2 separate regions of the Homo sapiens genome follow, and region 2 is linked to region 1. Evidence: fine-mapped expression QTL. A gene starts in region 1. The other region holds a variant in brackets. All regions are shown on one strand. Distances are from middle to middle. Region 1 holds the start of OSGEPL1 (O-sialoglycoprotein endopeptidase like 1). Region 2 has its middle 140 kb from the start of MSTN.

What was found. PIP is the estimated chance that this variant, and not a neighbour inherited with it, causes the effect.
Region 2: its variant is fine-mapped to the expression of OSGEPL1 in whole blood (INTERVAL, PIP above 0.99).

The regions. Positions count from the first base shown.
Region 1 is chr2:189,758,212-189,766,767 of GRCh38, reverse strand. It overlaps OSGEPL1 (O-sialoglycoprotein endopeptidase like 1), which reads left to right and starts at 3,976. Exons shown (of 9, transcript NM_022353.3): 1 at 3,976-4,083; 2 at 5,108-5,348. The coding sequence starts at 5,128. OSGEPL1-AS1 (OSGEPL1 antisense RNA 1) reads right to left here and starts at 3,988. Exons shown (of 2, transcript NR_102429.1): 1 at 3,776-3,988; 2 at 1,212-1,913. It also overlaps a transcript of ANKAR not described here and a transcript of ORMDL1 not described here. RefSeq lists enhancers at 3,301-4,047, 4,334-4,493.
Region 2 is chr2:189,921,237-189,929,792 of GRCh38, reverse strand. It overlaps a transcript of AKAP19 not described here, the pseudogene HNRNPCP2 and the pseudogene RNF11P1. Among named protein-coding and RNA genes, the nearest start is that of MSTN, 140 kb to the left of the region's middle. The variant G/T (reference allele first, on the strand shown) is at 3,144.

The sequences.
Region 1 (8,556 bases):
GGGAGCTTATTGGTTCTTGTTTTTGTTTTGTTTTTTTTTTTTTGAGACGGGAGTCTCCTTCTGTTGCCTAGGCTGGAGTGCAGTGGTGCAATCCCAGCTCACTGCAACGTCTGCCTCCCAGGTTCAAGTGATTCTCATGCCTCAGCCTCCCACGTAGCTGGGATTACAGGCATTCATCACCACAACCAGCTAATTTTTGTATTCTTAGTAGAGATGGCCATCATGTTGGCCAGGCTGGTCTCGAACTCCTGACTCCAGGTAATCCGCCCACCTCAGCCTCCCAAAGTGCTGGGATTACAGGCGCGAGCCACTGTGCCCGGCTGGGAGCTTATTGTTTAATGGGTACAGAATTTCAGTTTGAGAAGATGAAAAGGTTCTGGAGCTAGATGGTAGTCATAGTTGCATAGCAATGTGAATGTACTTAGTTCCTTTGAACTTAAAAATGGTCAAAATGGTAAATTGTTATGTAAATTCTACCACAATAAAGTTCAGAAAAGTTAATTTGTAAAATAAGCATAATGGTTCAGCAAACAAAACCCAAAATATCTTCCAAAGACCTGATTGACAGTATTACCACTAATGAAAGAACGTTCCACATCAAGAGATACTGGTCAGCAAAGAAAATTTAAGAGGAGAAAGGATGGGCTGGGCGTGGTGGCTCACGCCTGTAATCCCAGCACTTTGGGAGGCCGAGGCAGGTGGATCACGAGGTCAAGAGATGGAGACCATCCTGGCCAACATGGTGAAACCCCGTCTCTACTAAAAATACAAAAATTAGCTGGGCGTGGTGGCGTGCACCTGTAGTCCCAGCTACTCAGGAGGCTGGGGCAGGAGAATCGCTTGAACCCGGGAGGCAGAGGTTGTAGTGAGCCAACCTCACACCAATTGCAATCCAGACGTCGTCTCAAAAAAAAAAAAAAAAAAAAAATGGAGAAAGTAAAATGGCAATGTATTTTTAGCACTAGCCAAGTCAAAGAATGTAAGACAATGTGACTCAAGTGGAAAGGGCTGCATCAGGCTTGAAATACTAGCCATTAAAAGCACCACACACATTTCTATTGTTTCTGTTCTGTATTTACCAAGCAATCTTCTGATTATAATTTGGATTTAGCCTTCATTGTAATTTGGTCAATACAAGGAAGATAATGACCAGCAAACTCAACTATCCTAGCTTCCCCATAATTGTGTTTCTCATAAATAATACATTAGTATTAATGGCTTTTACACAGCATTTTATTAGCAGTTTGTGGTGGGTAACTCAGTACTCCAGAGTCCAGTCACTTCCAGACCTGATAAACCAATTTCAAGCCTATAAAAGAATCAGATATTGAAACTCAAGTAATCACACTATGGGCCTGCCAGGCTGGCATACATCTGTGGCACGCCAATGTGGCTTTTCCCAAGCAATACCCCTCTCTGAATGCAGTTTCCATTCACATTTCCATAATTCTGTACTGCATTTTGTCTTCTGCCTGTAGACTCAGATTCTTGAGAACAGAGAATGGACCTTATCTGTATCCTTATACTAATAAAGTTCCTAGCATAAAGGAAATAACCCAATAAATATGTAACAAATGAAAATAAAACCTAACCTAGTAGGACATAATTAGGAAATAAATATTGAAAAATAGGATTTGGGCCAGGCGTGGTGGCTCATGCCTGTAATCCCAGCACTTTGGGAAGCTGAGGCAGGTGGATCACGAGGTCAGGAGTTCAAAACCAGCCTGGCCAACATAGTGAAATGTCATCTCTACTAAAAATACAAAAATTAACTGGGAATGGTGGCAGGCACCTGTAGTCCCAGCTACTCGGAAGGCTGAGGCAGGAGAATCGCTTGAACCCCGGAGGTGGAGGTTGTAGTGAGCTGAGATGGCACCACTGCACTCCAGCCTGGCAACAGAGTGAGACTCCATCTAAAAAAAAAAAGAAAGATTCTTATATGTTTTAATATATAATATGTATTAATAATAAAATTTTCCTCTGAAGGCTACAAATGGAAAGCTAGACACACAATATCTGAGACCAAATAAGCATATCTAGATTCAGCTGGAACTCTCGATTTATGTTGAACTTACATAGGCCATATTTTTTGAGAATGCCCATGAGTGGCATTCTAACTATCTGCATAAAAGTACAGACAGGCCTCAGAGAGCATACATGCCTTTCCCCCAATAACCCTCTCCTATGTTACAATAGAGAACATAAAAAATGTATATCTTTGCTAAATACATGGGACTTGTATAAGTGCCACTTTACATATATTCGGTCAAGGGAAAGATAAAATTCCATACTAATGTGCCCTAGAGTTCTCCTGTTTCACATAATAACAGCATTCGGACTCAACACTGGCCAAGAGTGCCTAGACGAGGAATCTACCAATGATAGCACACACAATAGGATCTTGCTTGTCTTGACAGCACAGAAGAGCATTGGGATATACTTGCTGAACATAATTGGAATTGTAAGAAAAATAATACCTGATGTGAAAGGTTTTATGTTCAAACTGGATTCCAGTGTATAACAGAAATAAGCTCTGACCTCTCTAACCGTATGACTAATTTTTCTTAACTTTTAGGTTTTAATTTTTCTTTTTTCCCTTGTTTAGGCCAACAGTGCACCCTAGAGAAAATGTGAGTTATTTTCTCTTCTAGCAGTTAAGAAAACAGACTCCAGTGCCAGATGTCCTGACTTCTAATCCTAGCTTTGCTTTTCCTAGTTGTGTGACCTCCAAAGCACCCAAACTCTGTGGCCCAGTTGCCTGTAAAATGAGGACAGAAACTATTTCATGGGATTTTGAAAGAAATTAATCTACAGCAGGTGCCTGGTACATAGTGCCACTTTATCATTATTGTTACACATAAATGAAATTTTTGAAAAACATAAGTTCCAAATAAAAAACCTCAACCATATTCTGGTAATTATTTACTTATTTATCTGTATCCACCTCTAGACTGTACTCTGTGGCTTCCCAACATGTTGTTATGGGATTTACTCATCTTTTATACCCAGAGCTTCACAACGTGCAAAGTGCAGGTATATATGCCAGCCCTGTACAACAGTGGATTCTAAGGTCCTTGCTTACTAAAATCTTAAATACCAGCAGGGGAAAAGCCTGACTCTTGGAATAAATCTGTCCAATGTTCAAAACAAAGTTCACAAACCAATAAAAGAAAAAAAAAAAAAAAAGCAGGTGCAAGACTTTGAAAACATACCATGCTGAATTTCATGTACATAGTAAGGAAGGACAACATAATGCATTATGAAAATAGGATGGTTTAAGGCAACTGAATATTTACCACAGCCTTTTTTTTTTTTTTTTTTTTTTTTTTGAGACAGAGTCTCGCTCTGTAGCTCAGGCTGGAGTGCAGTGGCGCGATCTCGGCTCACTGCTACCTCCGCCTCCCGGGTCCCAGTTCAAGCAGTTCTCCTGCCTCAGTCTCCCGATTTTTTTTTTTTTTAATTGTAAAAATAAGCCAGCCCCTTTCTTCCTAGTGAAGTGGGAGAAACGGTTTACACTGTCCGATGAGAAACACTTCCGTTCTTTGGTAACCCTGCTAGGGGGCGCCGCTAGATTCCATCCTATTTCTCCGATGAAAGTATCAGGTACCTCACCCCTAAGTTTAGATTTGATGATAGTTCCCTTAAAAATGAATGACGAATAATCTACCCCATCCTTTTCTCACAGTAGCAACCAAATTCCAGCCAAGGGCAAAAAAAAAATTTCTTTTTAATGTAGCTTAGTGTTTGGAACTTGATGTTGTGTAGTCAGACAAACCTGTATTCGGCCTCCGCTGGATCAGTCACTAGCTGTGTAATTTTACAGAACTCTCATCACCTGCAAATCTGGGGGAAATGCAGGTGCGCACAGAGAGCGTTTTGGGCAAAGACGGCCTTTAAGCTTTTCTTCACTAAGCATGCCGCTCGCTAGCGGAACAGCAGCCAGCTCTGGACGGGACCTTGCACAGTTCCGATGACATCACTTCCGGGCGCCAGGTTCGGGCTTTCTCCTGCAGCGATAAGGGCAGTCGACAGTCTTTAGTAGGGAAAGGAGACAAGTGCTAGCTACTGCCGCCCAAGTGGAAGGTGGGTGAAATTGCTCACTCTTCACCCCACTGACGCTTTTGCGCACCTGGAAAAGCGGTTCCAGTTTGCGCCCGTCGCCGCCTTACAGCCGACAGGAGACCAGCGCTACCCAAGTCACGTGGGTTCAGCCTGCAGCTTTCTTGGCCCGAAAGGGTAGTGCTTCGTACAATCCTCCTTGTCCAGATTTTGTTAATGCAAATCTAATTCCTCTAGGTTGTGTCTGTCTGGGCTGCACTGCCCGCAACTGCCTTCTGCAAATAGGTCGCTCATCTCTAATCCCTGGGATGCCGTGTCCCTTTAGTGTGGTGGAGAAAGGCCCTGCTTTAACACCCAGAAAGTTTTAGAACGGATGATCTGGGGGCATAAAATTAGGTGCTTCGCAGTGTGAAAATACTAGTGTGCTTTAGTGATGGGCTGCTATTATTTTGGGGGAAAAGGATTTGGGAAGATCCTTGTTATGACAAAACCTGTAGCAAAAAGTGGAGATTTAATTCCAAAGATTGCAATTAAGGATAAAATAGGTGTTAGGTTGCAGTTGGCGTGTGTGTGTTTATGTTAACTCTTGTTTTTGAACCAAATGATCCAGTTTTATTTTGAAAGATGTTTTTAGGAGATGGAATACATTAACAGTATTTTTATCTGTTCCATCTGCCTTTGTTGTTTGATTCTTTTTAGAAAATCCACATTTTGTCTTAATTTTAGCTGTCAAAAAATAAATAGCACTTTTCAGAGGACTCTATCAATTATTGTACTTTATATTAGCTGTCTTAATAGTAAGTCTTTTGGTAGGAACAGCATGCAAGTAATAATAATACTAAAAAATTTTATATCTGACCCCTGTTTTCCCCCTTGGAGAACATTATATTCATTCATAATATTATTTATATTCCCATGTTGCTATAGCCTTTACAAACTTTTGGTGACTTTTACAAACTTTCCTGTAATTCTGTAAAACTATATATTGAAAAATAAGCTGGCTAATGTCAGTTGCAAATAATAAGTTGTTTCTGTAATTCTTTTTCAGGAATTATCTATAGAGTAAGTATGCTAATCTTGACTAAGACTGCAGGAGTTTTTTTTAAACCATCAAAAAGGAAAGTTTATGAATTTTTAAGAAGTTTTAATTTTCATCCTGGAACACTATTTCTTCATAAAATAGTATTGGGAATTGAAACTAGTTGTGATGATACAGCAGCTGCTGTGGTGGATGAAACTGGAAATGTGTTGGGAGAAGCAATACATTCCCAAACTGAAGTTCATTTAAAGTAAGTAGACATTATCTTAGTCATTTCCACTTTTTTGGAAAAAGTAAAATCATTCTTTTGTATTTGTCATATATAAAAGTTTTCAGGAGCTACTGTCTTATTCCTTTTTGCAAACACTTTTAATAACTGCTATAGAAAACCTCAAACACTTCATCCTGGCTTTTAAGGGTCTTCACAATAAGGTCCCAACCTTAACTAATCCTGTTGCCAAAAGAAACTGAGCTCATTCCCAGCTTCCGTATTTATTGATTTTCCTTCAGTAATGCATTCCTTCTTTTCTCCACTTCTATGTTTCATGGTCTCAGCTGAAGTCCTAGGAAAACTGTTAGTCATTGAAAAAAAAAATCCTATTCATATTTATACATATAACTTGTATTAGTACTTAAATAATAATACACTGTTGTATTAAAGCATAGAATGGTGCAAGGATTATAAACTGTGATGTTTATAGAGGACTACCAGGCAGGTTACCTAAATAAATGGACAAGATAAAAAGTGGAAAATGTCTGGAGGAGGTCACTACTCAGCTCTAGCCAGTTGTCATGTGGGAATGCAGGACCTGTGTTATTAGATTATTATAATTTTCAAGGGAAAATGGAAATCCAGATTTTTTTTTTCTTTTTTTTTGGTGAGACAGAGTCTCACTCTGTCACCAGGCTGGAGTGCAGTGGCATGATCTCGGCTCACTGCAATCTCCGCCTCTCGAGTTCAAACGATTCCCCTGTCTCAGCCTCCCAAGTAGCTGGGATTACAGGCACGTGCCACCACGCCCAGCTGATTTTTTGCATTTTAGTAGAGACGGGGTTTCACCATGTTGGCCAGGATGGTCTCAATCTCCTGACCTCTTGATCCACCTACCTCGGCCTCCCAAAGTGCAGGGATTACAGGCGTGAGACACCGCGCCGGGCTGGAAATCCAGATTGTTAATGTATTTGCAGATTTTTTACATTAGTAGCTAATTTAGAATATATTAAAATACTCTTGGGAGGTGGGGGGCGCCCCCGCCCAGCAGCCGCCCCGTCTGGGAGGTGGGGGCGCCTCTGCCCGGCAGCCGCCCCGTCTTAGGGGTGGGGGCCCCTCCGCCTGGCCGCCACCTCTGGGAAGTGAGGAGCCCCTCTGCCCGGCTGCCACCCCGTCTGGGAGGTGTACCCAACAGTTCATTGAGAACGGGCCATGATGACAATGGCGGTTTTGTCGAATAGAAAAGGGGGAAATGTGGGGAAAAGAAAGAGAGATCAGATTGTTAATATGTCTGTGTAGAAAGAAGTAGACATAGGAGACTCCATTTTGTTCTATACTAAGAAAAATCCTTCTGCCTTGGGATGCTGTTGATCTATAACCTTACCCCCAACCCCGTGCTCTCTGAAACATGTGCTGTGTCAACTCAGGGTTAAATGGATTAAGGGCGGTGCAAGATGTGCTTTGTTAGACAGATGCTTGAAGGCAGCATACTCGTTAAGAGTCATCACCACTCCCTAATCTCAAGTACCCAGGGACATAAACACTGCAGAAGGCCGCAGAGTCCTCTGCCTAGGAAAACCAGAGACCTTTGTTCACATGTTTATCTGCTGACCTTCTCTCCACTATTGTCCTATGGCCCTGCCAAATCCCCCTCTCCGAGAAACACCCAAGAATGATCAATAAATACTAAAAAAATAAATAAATAAATAAATAAGAATAAAATACTCTACAGATGAGTATACCTTTAAGCTATCAATTTACAACATCTGAATAGTGAAAAAGCCTGGTATTTTGGAATCACAGTCCTGTATTTGAATCCTGAATTAAGCACTTGGTATTGGCTCTGTAACTGTAGGCAAGTTCCATATCCTCTCTGATTCTGTTTTCACATCAGTAAAATAGGAAAATTGGCTGGGCGCTGTGGCTCACGCCTGTAATCGCATCACTTTGGGAGGCCGAGGCAAGTGGACCATGAGGTCAGGAGATTGAGACCATCCTGGCTAACATGGTGAAACCCCATCTCTACTAAAAATACAAAAAAAATTAGCCAGGCGTGGTGGCGGACGCCTGTAGTCGCAGCTACTTGGGAGGCTGAGGCAGGAGAATGGCGTGAACCCGGGAGGCGGAGCTTGCAGTGAGCAGAGATCGCGCCATTGGACTCCAGCCCGGGCGACAGAGTGAGAGTCTGTCTCAAAAAAAAAAAAAGGAAAATTAACATCTGCCTCATAGAATTACGGGAGGGTGGCATTAGAAATAATGTATGTAAAGAGGCAGATTGAGCCTCAAACAATAACTATGTGAAAGGGACTGTGTTGGATATTAGTAAGGCACTGTGAAGTACTGCAAAGTCCTTGGTTTAAGGAAGCTTAACTTGATTATGGAGACATGATGTCTAGACCTACAAGGAGAATTAATAGTGCAAGGCAGCATAGCATAAGGAAAAACAAGTGGTGCAGACAGTAACTATTATTACCGTGCCTCAGCTTCACAGTCCTTTCAGTTTTTCCTGAGTGCACTGAACTTTTGAACATGTAAAAGTTAATGGCACAGAAAGGACTACCCTGACCACTTTATCTAAATTAGGTACTCCCATCCTATTTATTCTGTATCATCATACCCTGCATATTTTCTTTGTAATACTTTCACAATTTATACATTTGCTTGTGTATGTATAATCTCTCTCAGTAGAGTCTAAGTGCCAAGGTGACAGGGGCCATGTCTATATTAATCACTATGCTATGCCTAGTGCCTAACACAATGTTTGACACATCACAGGTGTTCAGTGGCCTTTCGTTAGGCCTTCAGTGAATGGAGATGGAAAGAATATTATAACCTGTGTTAGTTCATTCTTGCACTGCTATAACGAAATACCTGAGACTGGGTAATTTATAAAGAAAAGAGGTTTAATTGGTTCGTGTTTCCACAGGCTGTGTAGGAAGCGTGGCAGCATCTGCTTCTGGGGAGGCCCAGGGAGCTTTTACTCATGGCGGAAGGCAAATTGGGAGTAGGCGTCTTACATGGCAGGAGCAGGACCGAGAGAGGGGGGGTGAGGTGCTACACACTTTTTTTTTTCTTTTGAGATGGAGTTTTGCTCTTGTTGCCCAGACCAGAGTGCAATGGTGCAATCTTGGCTCATCACAACCTCCGCCTCCCGGGTTCAAGCGATTCTCCCCCCTCAGCCTTCAGAATAGCTGGGATTATAGGCATGCGCCACCATGCCCAGCTAATTTTGTATTTTTAGTAGAGA
Region 2 (8,556 bases), 160 kb before region 1:
TTTAAAGCTTGTTTGCACAGTTATTTTTTTCCATTAGAAATGGAATTCATTGCCTTAGGTCCTTTTAAATAGTGTATTATTATCATTGGGCTAGTTCTATGCTTGAAAACCAGTTTATTTATAATCTGTTATAAGTGCTATATTCTGTTTGCAGTCAGGAAATGCAGAATTCAAAGTGATATCCTAGCTTGTAAGCAAACTGAGATGTACTATCCCTTTTCTATTAAAAAAAAAAAGTGTCAATAAACCAACTCTATTACAGTGGGGTTTAATATTACACTTTCCTGTGTGTTTTATCTAATTATTTTGGTTGTTAATATGGTGATAATTGAAAATCAAGGTAAATTTTAAATATTAAGAATTCTGATTTATTGAGATTGAATTATGCCACCATGTTTATGAAAAATGAAGGTGGCACCACGGTGAGACCTCATGAGAAATAGTTACTCAGCTGTAACAATTTTGATTTATTCTGTTTCCTGTGACCTCCTTCCCTCTTGTCTTGAACCATAGCAAAAAGATACTGCATCCCTCATTACTGTAATGCTGAGGTTACTGAAGTTACATAAAACACATCTCAGTCCCTGTTTCTTGGAAAGGTATCTATTAAGTCCTGCTAGCTAACTGACAAAATGAAGCAAGTAGAAGCAAAAAGTGTGTTTCACATTTTGCACACAAATGCAGAATTTGTATAACCACATGACTTCATAGTTGTGATCTCAAAAAAGAAGGAATTTCTCCATTTTTTCTTCCATTTAATGTAAGAATACTTTAAATCTCTAGGCTTCTGAAGTGTTAGAGGTAAAGACATAGTAGTAATGTTTTATCCATTTAATGTATTTATTTTTTCGTATATACTCCTAGGTGACCTACTTTTTCACTTCAGTGACATAACAGTAAAGAAAAATCATTCATTAGGAAAAGGAAAAGTGGTCTCAACCTAACAAAGAAATCAGAAATGTTTCTTATTATTTTATGTTGAGCTGCATATTGGACTCTAACATTTTTCTACATGCAAAACACAGTGTCATGAAGCTTCTTCATAATTGCAATATAGAGGAATTTAGTATCTCTTAAGTACTTTGTAAAGATTTGACATTCAACTATAGTATCCATATGTTGGTTAAATTTCCTTATGAGCCCCATGATGGAAAGACTTAAAGATGAATTTGAGAAAAATTGAAAGAAATTAGAGTATCAAGTTGTGTTAAATTGTTACATGTATCTTGCTTAAATTTCTGTTTATTAATTTATATCCACCCAATTACATAAAGCAAATTTGAAGGAAACAACTGAAGTTGTGAAATATTATCTGTGATAATTGCTTTTTTTATTCTTGTGTTTTCTACTTAAACATGATGTCTATGTCATCAAGTATTATAGTCAGACTTTTTTCTCAATTGTTAAAATTGGTAAATGAACTTTTTTAAAATAAAAAAAGCTTCTCCAACTTTACAATGGAAATAGATCAATGAACCTGATAAATCAATGTTAACATTACCAGTAACAAGAAAAATTGATACAATGGGCCTTCAAATATGATTCACTGAAAAAGACACAAATGCATTTCTGTAGTATTGTTCCTGAATATCCAATATCTGATACTAATCTGAAGGAAACACCAAACTCCAAATAAGGCACATTTCATAAAATAACAGGCCTGTAACTCTTGAAAAATGTTAAGGACCTGAAAGATAAATTAATTCTGTAAACAATTCCAGATTAAACAATACTAAAAAGACATGAAATCTAAATGTCACTTGATTGCGCAATCATTCCTGAAACAGGAAAAAAATCATCTTTTACTTACTACAAAAGACATTAATGGGACAACTGGCAACATTTGAATGTCTAGAGCATTACAAATACAACTTTCTGCAATGATGGTAGTGTTCTATATCTATGCTCTCCAATACAATAACCACTGGACTGCTGAGTGCCTGAAATGAGAAACTGAATTTCTAATGTATTTAATTTATTTAAATAGCCACATATGGCTAGTGGCCACCAGACTGAACAGCACAGGCTTATATACTAGACAATAGTACTATATCAATGTTAATTTCCTGATTTGATGACTGTATTAAGATTACACGAGAGAATATCCTTATTTTTAGGGAAAAAACACTGAACTGTTTAGAGGTTAAGGAGCATCATGTGTACAACTTAAAATCTTCAAAATGTTTCAGAGAAAAGAAAGAATGGTAAAGCAATGTGGTAAAACGTTAATATTTTGAGAATCTGGGTGAAGTGTATACAGAATTCTTCATACTATTTTTGTAAGTCTACCATTATCGCACATTAAAAGTTAAAAAGAAAAGAATAGCTGCATAAAATCAATATTATTCTCACTAAAACTTATTTGTACACTATTTTTCACTTTGTTCTTGAAATGTGAATGTTCAACTGTTAATTCGATTTCATTTTTAAAAAAACTCCTCTATACTCTATAAACTATTCACTCTCTGACCAAAAGTGTATAATATATTAAGCTATTCTAAACTTTTATAGTTAGCAGAAAAGAAAGAGCATAGAACTGAGATTTCAGCCTGAGTACTGAATATTTAAAGTAGCAAAGGTATTGCAAAATTAAGTTCATTGCTGGGCATGGGAACTCATGCCTGTAATCCCAGTACTTTGGGAGGCTGAGGTGGGAGGATCACTTGAGGTCAGGAGTTCAAGACCAGCCTGGGCAACAGAGAGACAGGGATCTGTCTCTACAAAAAATAAAAATAAAAAAAATTAACCAGGCATGGTGGTGTGCATCTATAGCCCTAGCTACTTGGGAGGTTGAGGTAGGAGGATCACTTGAATCCAGGAGTTTGAGGCTGCAGTGAGCTATGATCACACCACTGGACTCCAGCCTGGGCAACAAAGTAAGATCCTTGCTCTTAGAAAAACAATTAATTAGGCCGGGCGCAGTGGCTCATGCCTATAATCCCAGCAATTTCGGAGGCCAAGACGGGCGCATCATGAGGTCAGGAAATCGAGACCATCCTGGCTAACACAGTGAAACCCCGTCTCTACTAAAAAATATACAAAAAATTAGCCGGGCATGGTGGCGGGCGCCTGTAGCCCCAGCTACTCAGGAGGCTGAGGCAGGAGAATGGCGTGAACCTGGGAGGCAGAGCTTGCAGTGAGCC[G/T]AGATCGCGCCACTGCACTCCAGCCTGGGCGACAGAATCCGTCTCAAAAAAAAAAAAAAAAAAAGGCCGGGCGCGGTGGCTCACGCCTGTAGTCCCAGCACTTTGGGAGGCCGAGGCGGGCGGATCACGACGTCAGCAGATCGAGACCACCCTGGCTAACACAGTGAAACCCCGTCTCTACTAAAAACCCAAAAAATTAGCGGGGCATGGTAGTGGGCGCTTGTAGTCCCGGAAGGCTGAGGCAGGAGAATGGCGTGAACCCAGGAGGCGGAGTTTGCAGTGAGCCTAGATCGCGCCACTGCACTCCAGCCTGGGTGACAGAGTGAGACTCCGTCTCAAAAAAACAAAAAACAAAACAAAACAAAAAAAGTGTAAAAATCATTGCGCATCTTTCTATCTGTGCAGAGATGGAACATATTGTGTCATTTCCACAGAGTGAAATGGAAAGCTCCATAAACAGTGAGATTTAGTGGGTTCATCCTTGGAAAATAGTCAAGAAAAAATGCCTATATCTCTTGCTTATATGTGATCAACCGAATATCAATGATAATGCAAAAGTTGAACAGAAAACTTAGAAACTAAAGAAAAAGTATCTAGATTAATTTCAAATCAGATTTCTTTTTCACAGTCTACTCAATCCAGTATAATTAAGTTTCCATCATTACTTCATGAGACTATCCTCAGAAAGATCTATAAATGTACTTTTCACTAAATCCAATGAATACTTTTTAGTCCTTAATCTCTTGATAACATTTGATAATACAAACACCTTCCTTCATGAAATGGTCTTTTCTTCTGGCTTTGATAATGTATATTTTCTTGATTTTTTCTCTCTCTACTCTGCTTCTAGTATCCTTGCATGCCCTCTTCCTTTAGTCATCTCTTTACTGACATTTCTCAAAATTCTGTCCTAGACCATAATCTCTTCTCATCTTATACCCTAACCTTGGGTTAGGGCGTCTCATCTCACATTCCTGGCTTCGGAAAACATGTATTGCACATATGAAAGTGAACCCAAAGATCATCCTATCCTCAACTGTTCCTGAGATTCATACCCACAAATGAACCTATGGACATGTCCAGTTGGATGTCTTTCAGGAACATCTAACTCAACATGTCAAAAACTAAACTTATTATCTCTAGCCCCTATGGTTACTGCCTCCCTGAAAACTGCTCTTCCTCTTTTCATAAATGTCACTATCACTTGTATAAGACAAAAACCTGGGAATTATCTTTTATTTCTCATTCATCATTACCTCCATCTAAGGAACTATTAAGTCTAGTATATTCTATTACTTGAGTAGATTATTATTATTTGCATAAGTTATATTTTATAAAGTTGCTATGAATACTGAATTAGTGAACACTAAACCACCGAGGATTACATTCCTGTGAGCCTCTGGTCACAGATTTTCAGCAATCAGTCAACACACAACATTGTTAGATGTTCCTAAAAGACATCCAGTTGGACATGTTCATAGGTCTGTTTGTGGGTATGAATGAATCTCAGGAACAGTTTAGGATAGGATAATCTTTGGGTTCACTTTCATATGTGCAATACGTGGTTTCTGAAGCCAGAAATGTGAGGCGAAACCCCCTCCCTCAAGGTTAAATGAGTATAATGAGAAGAGATTATTGTCTAGGACAGAAAGTGTGTTTCTGTTTAAACACACCTTTCATTCACTAACATTGAGCTCATGGTTAACAGCAGTATAACTCATACCATAATGAAGCTTATTTTTATTTATTTATTTATTTATTTATTTTTTCCCCTGGTTTAATAAGGACTTGTTTATTTTGAGGAAAAAAGGTCCCAAACATCAGGCTGTTCACAAAAATAACCCACAGTATCAACTTTAGAAAACAAATCTTAAGACTATAACACTAATTATTTTTCTAGAGGATGCATTTGACATGCCAACTCTCATTCACAAAAATACATTGTTACATTTGTGTTGAACTGCCCCACACAGCACACTAATGTGGGGGTGTAACACACATACTTCTAACTCAAAGCTGCTTTCAAGAGCTACTCAACTAAATGAGATTGCCTTTGCAGTTAGGGAAGCAACTACTGAACTTATGTATGAATGAAAAGAACTGTACTCCCTGCATAACAAGAGATTATTTTGGAGACAGTTGATAAAAACCATACATCATTTTTATTGTTAAGTCATAAAGAGGTATCAAAATTAAAAGCAAAAATTACAGGGTAAGACTTAACAAAACTACTAGGAGCGTCAAAGGAAGTGAAAATGGGACTAGGCGCGGGGCAATATGAATTAATTAATGAACATGGGAAGGACAAGGATGGGGAAAACAGTGAGCATGTGCTGAAGATACTAGGGGAGAGGATCTGGTGAAAAATTTGATCTTAGACAAGCGCCTAGGTAAAGAAATAATGGGATAAGATTTCTAAACCCCACTATGTGCTTAAGAGTCATCCTCGCCATTGGCGCTGTCTCTGTCATCCTCTCCTTCCTCAGCCTCTTTTTCATCATCCTTGATCAACTCCAGCTGGTCATCCCCCCATCTTCATTATCATCATCATCCAGTAGGTCCCCCTCCTCAGCAGAGTCATCTGCACCCCCCTCAGACTCCATCTTCACATTAGTCTCATCTTTCTTCACGGAGCTGCTGCTCTGCTCCTCTTCTGACTTAACATTGTTCATCTCTACTGCTTGTTTGCTCTGTTCCTTTTCAATTTTTTCCAGGTTTTCCAGGAAAGAATCCACTTTTTGTTTTATCTGGGTCAGCTCCCTCTTAATGGCCTGAAGGTCATCTCCTTTCAACTTTCCAGACTTGGAAGATCCCCGCTGTCCACTCTTAGAATTGAAGCCACTTATGCCCCTTTGTGAAGTGTTTCCTGATACACGCTGACGTTTCGAGGGCACTACAGCCCGAGCAATAGGAGGAGGAGGAGGTACACGTGCTGGGTAACTGTACATCCTATCATAATAGTCCCGTTGAAAGTCACAATCCAAGTCAAAAGAGGAGCCGTACATCTCCGCTGCAGATCGTTTCACACCTGCTTTTCCTCGGTTCACTTTTGGCTCTGCAGCCAGGTTAATATCTAAAACCTGGCCAGCAATCATTCTGCCATCCTCTCCTGCTACAGCAGCCCGGGCATTTCTCTCATTAACATACTGAAAGAAGGCAAAGCCCTTATGAACAGAGCAGCCCACAATTTTGCCATACTTCGAAAAGATTGCCTCCACATCAGATTTCTTGACCACAAGAGTGTTGAGATTCCCAATGAATACACGGGAGTTCATGGAACGAGGATCTGTCTTGTTGGTAACGTTGCTGGCCATTGTGTTTGATGGTAAGGTTTCTCACAAAGCCGAAAACAAGAAGGGGAGGGAGAAGAGATTCGATTCTGAGTCTCCTACTCCCGGGTTCTGCGTAGAGAAGCCGACTGCTGCTGGAGGTCGGCAACGCGGCCGCAACCGCTCAGTCTTCGTCTCTTCACAAAATGGCCTATTTATTTATTTTTTTAGAGATGGAGTCTCACTCTGTCGCCCAGGCTGGAGTGCAGTGGTGCGATCTTGGCTCACTGCAACCTCCGCCTCCCATGTTCTAGCAATTCTCCTGCCTCAGCCTCCTGAGTAGCTGGGACTATAGGCGTACACTGCCATACCCGGCTAATTTTTTGTATTTTTAGTAGAGACAAGGTTTCAACGTGTTGTCCAGGCTGGTCTTGAACTCCTGAGCTCAGGCAATCCATCCGCCTCAGCCTCCCAAAGTGCTAAGACTACAGGCATGAGCCACCGCACCCAGTAGAAGCTTATCTTAACAAACATACTTGCCCCATAAAGTACATCATGGCCTTCTTGCACTGAGGAACACTATATAGACAGTACTTTAAAAATATGGTTAGGGCCAGGTTAAACTTTAAAATTACCAATAAAAAGTGCAGATATGAGAAAAACATAGCAATAAGTAATAGGTAAAAAAGATATTTGTTTACAGTATAAGAACTAAAAGAAGGCAGGATGTTGACTTGTTCAACCTCAGCTGGGAACATGTGCATTGGACAACACAAATTTTTCTGCTGCTCTGTGTATGTCCACAAATGACTGTGAAAGTACAGCAAGTACTGATTTGGGGGTTACAAGCAAATTTTTGTGAGTAGGCATAATTGCAAATACAGAATTCACCAGCAGGGATCAACTGTATCTGCTGAATCTACCTACTTCTCTCTATACCCATGTCTAGTTTAGACAACTCATATTGGTTATGGATTAAGCTGATAGCTTTCGAACTGGTCTCCTTGTTTCTGGCTCTCCTTTGATGTATTCTGCAAGCAGTAGCCAGAATTGTTTTTCTTCTAAAATCTGATATAATTCCTGTTTAAAATGTTTCAATGACCAGCCACAGCAAAAGCCAACACTTTAACAAAAGTTACAATGATATGATCCTTGTCTTTTCAGTCTCCTTTCTTGCTATTACCCTTTTATCTAGTGAGCTTCAGCCAAACAGAACTTCTTTAAGGTTTCTCTTATTATTGGGCTTTTGTATATGCTATTTCTTCTGCCAATTTCATTGTTCCCTCTTCACCTGGCTAGCTCACACTAATCCTTCACATTTCTACTTTATTGTTACCTCTTCCAGAACCTTTCTGCTATGTGCTCATCCAGCACCCTATACTTCCCCTATCTTTCTTTATACTTACCAATTCATTTTAAATTCTCTATTTAATGAATTGCTAGTTCCATGAGGACAGAGACAACTATCACCCTTTCCCCAGAGCCTAACCCAGTCAGTACTTTGCATATCCAGGTGTTCATAATATCTGTTTAATGTCAGGTGAACAAATTAATAGTTCTTCATTATGTGTGAGAAGGTGATATGTCTGCACACCTTCCTGACTGCCAGCTGATCATACTACACAAATTCTGATGATCTTACTCTTTTACTCAAACTAATTCTAGGTCTACTCTGTTCTCTGTTCTACATTGTGAAGTACTCCCTCTCTATTGAAACATTCCCATTAGCACATACACATGCTATTTATTGCCCATATTAAAAATAGGAAGGATGAATGGAATCTATCCATAATTCTCTACCTTTCTTCACTATCATCCATTTTTCTGCTCCTTTAAAAAAATCTTCTAAGGGATACCTATAGTTTATGCCTTTAATCCCTCACCTCCTAATCTCTACAAATCACCATATTGGGGATCTTCATCACTTCAATGAAATTATTTTTGACAAATTCACCAATAACTTCATGTTGTCAAATCCAATGGTCACAGGTTTGTCTTCATCTTATTTGACCTCTCAGCAGCACTGTACACAGCTGACCATTTTATTCTTTCTGAAATAATTTCTTCTTTCAACTTCTATGACACAACATTTTCCTGACTTTTCTTGTTAACTATTTCTTATCAGCCTTCTTTGCTTGTCTTCC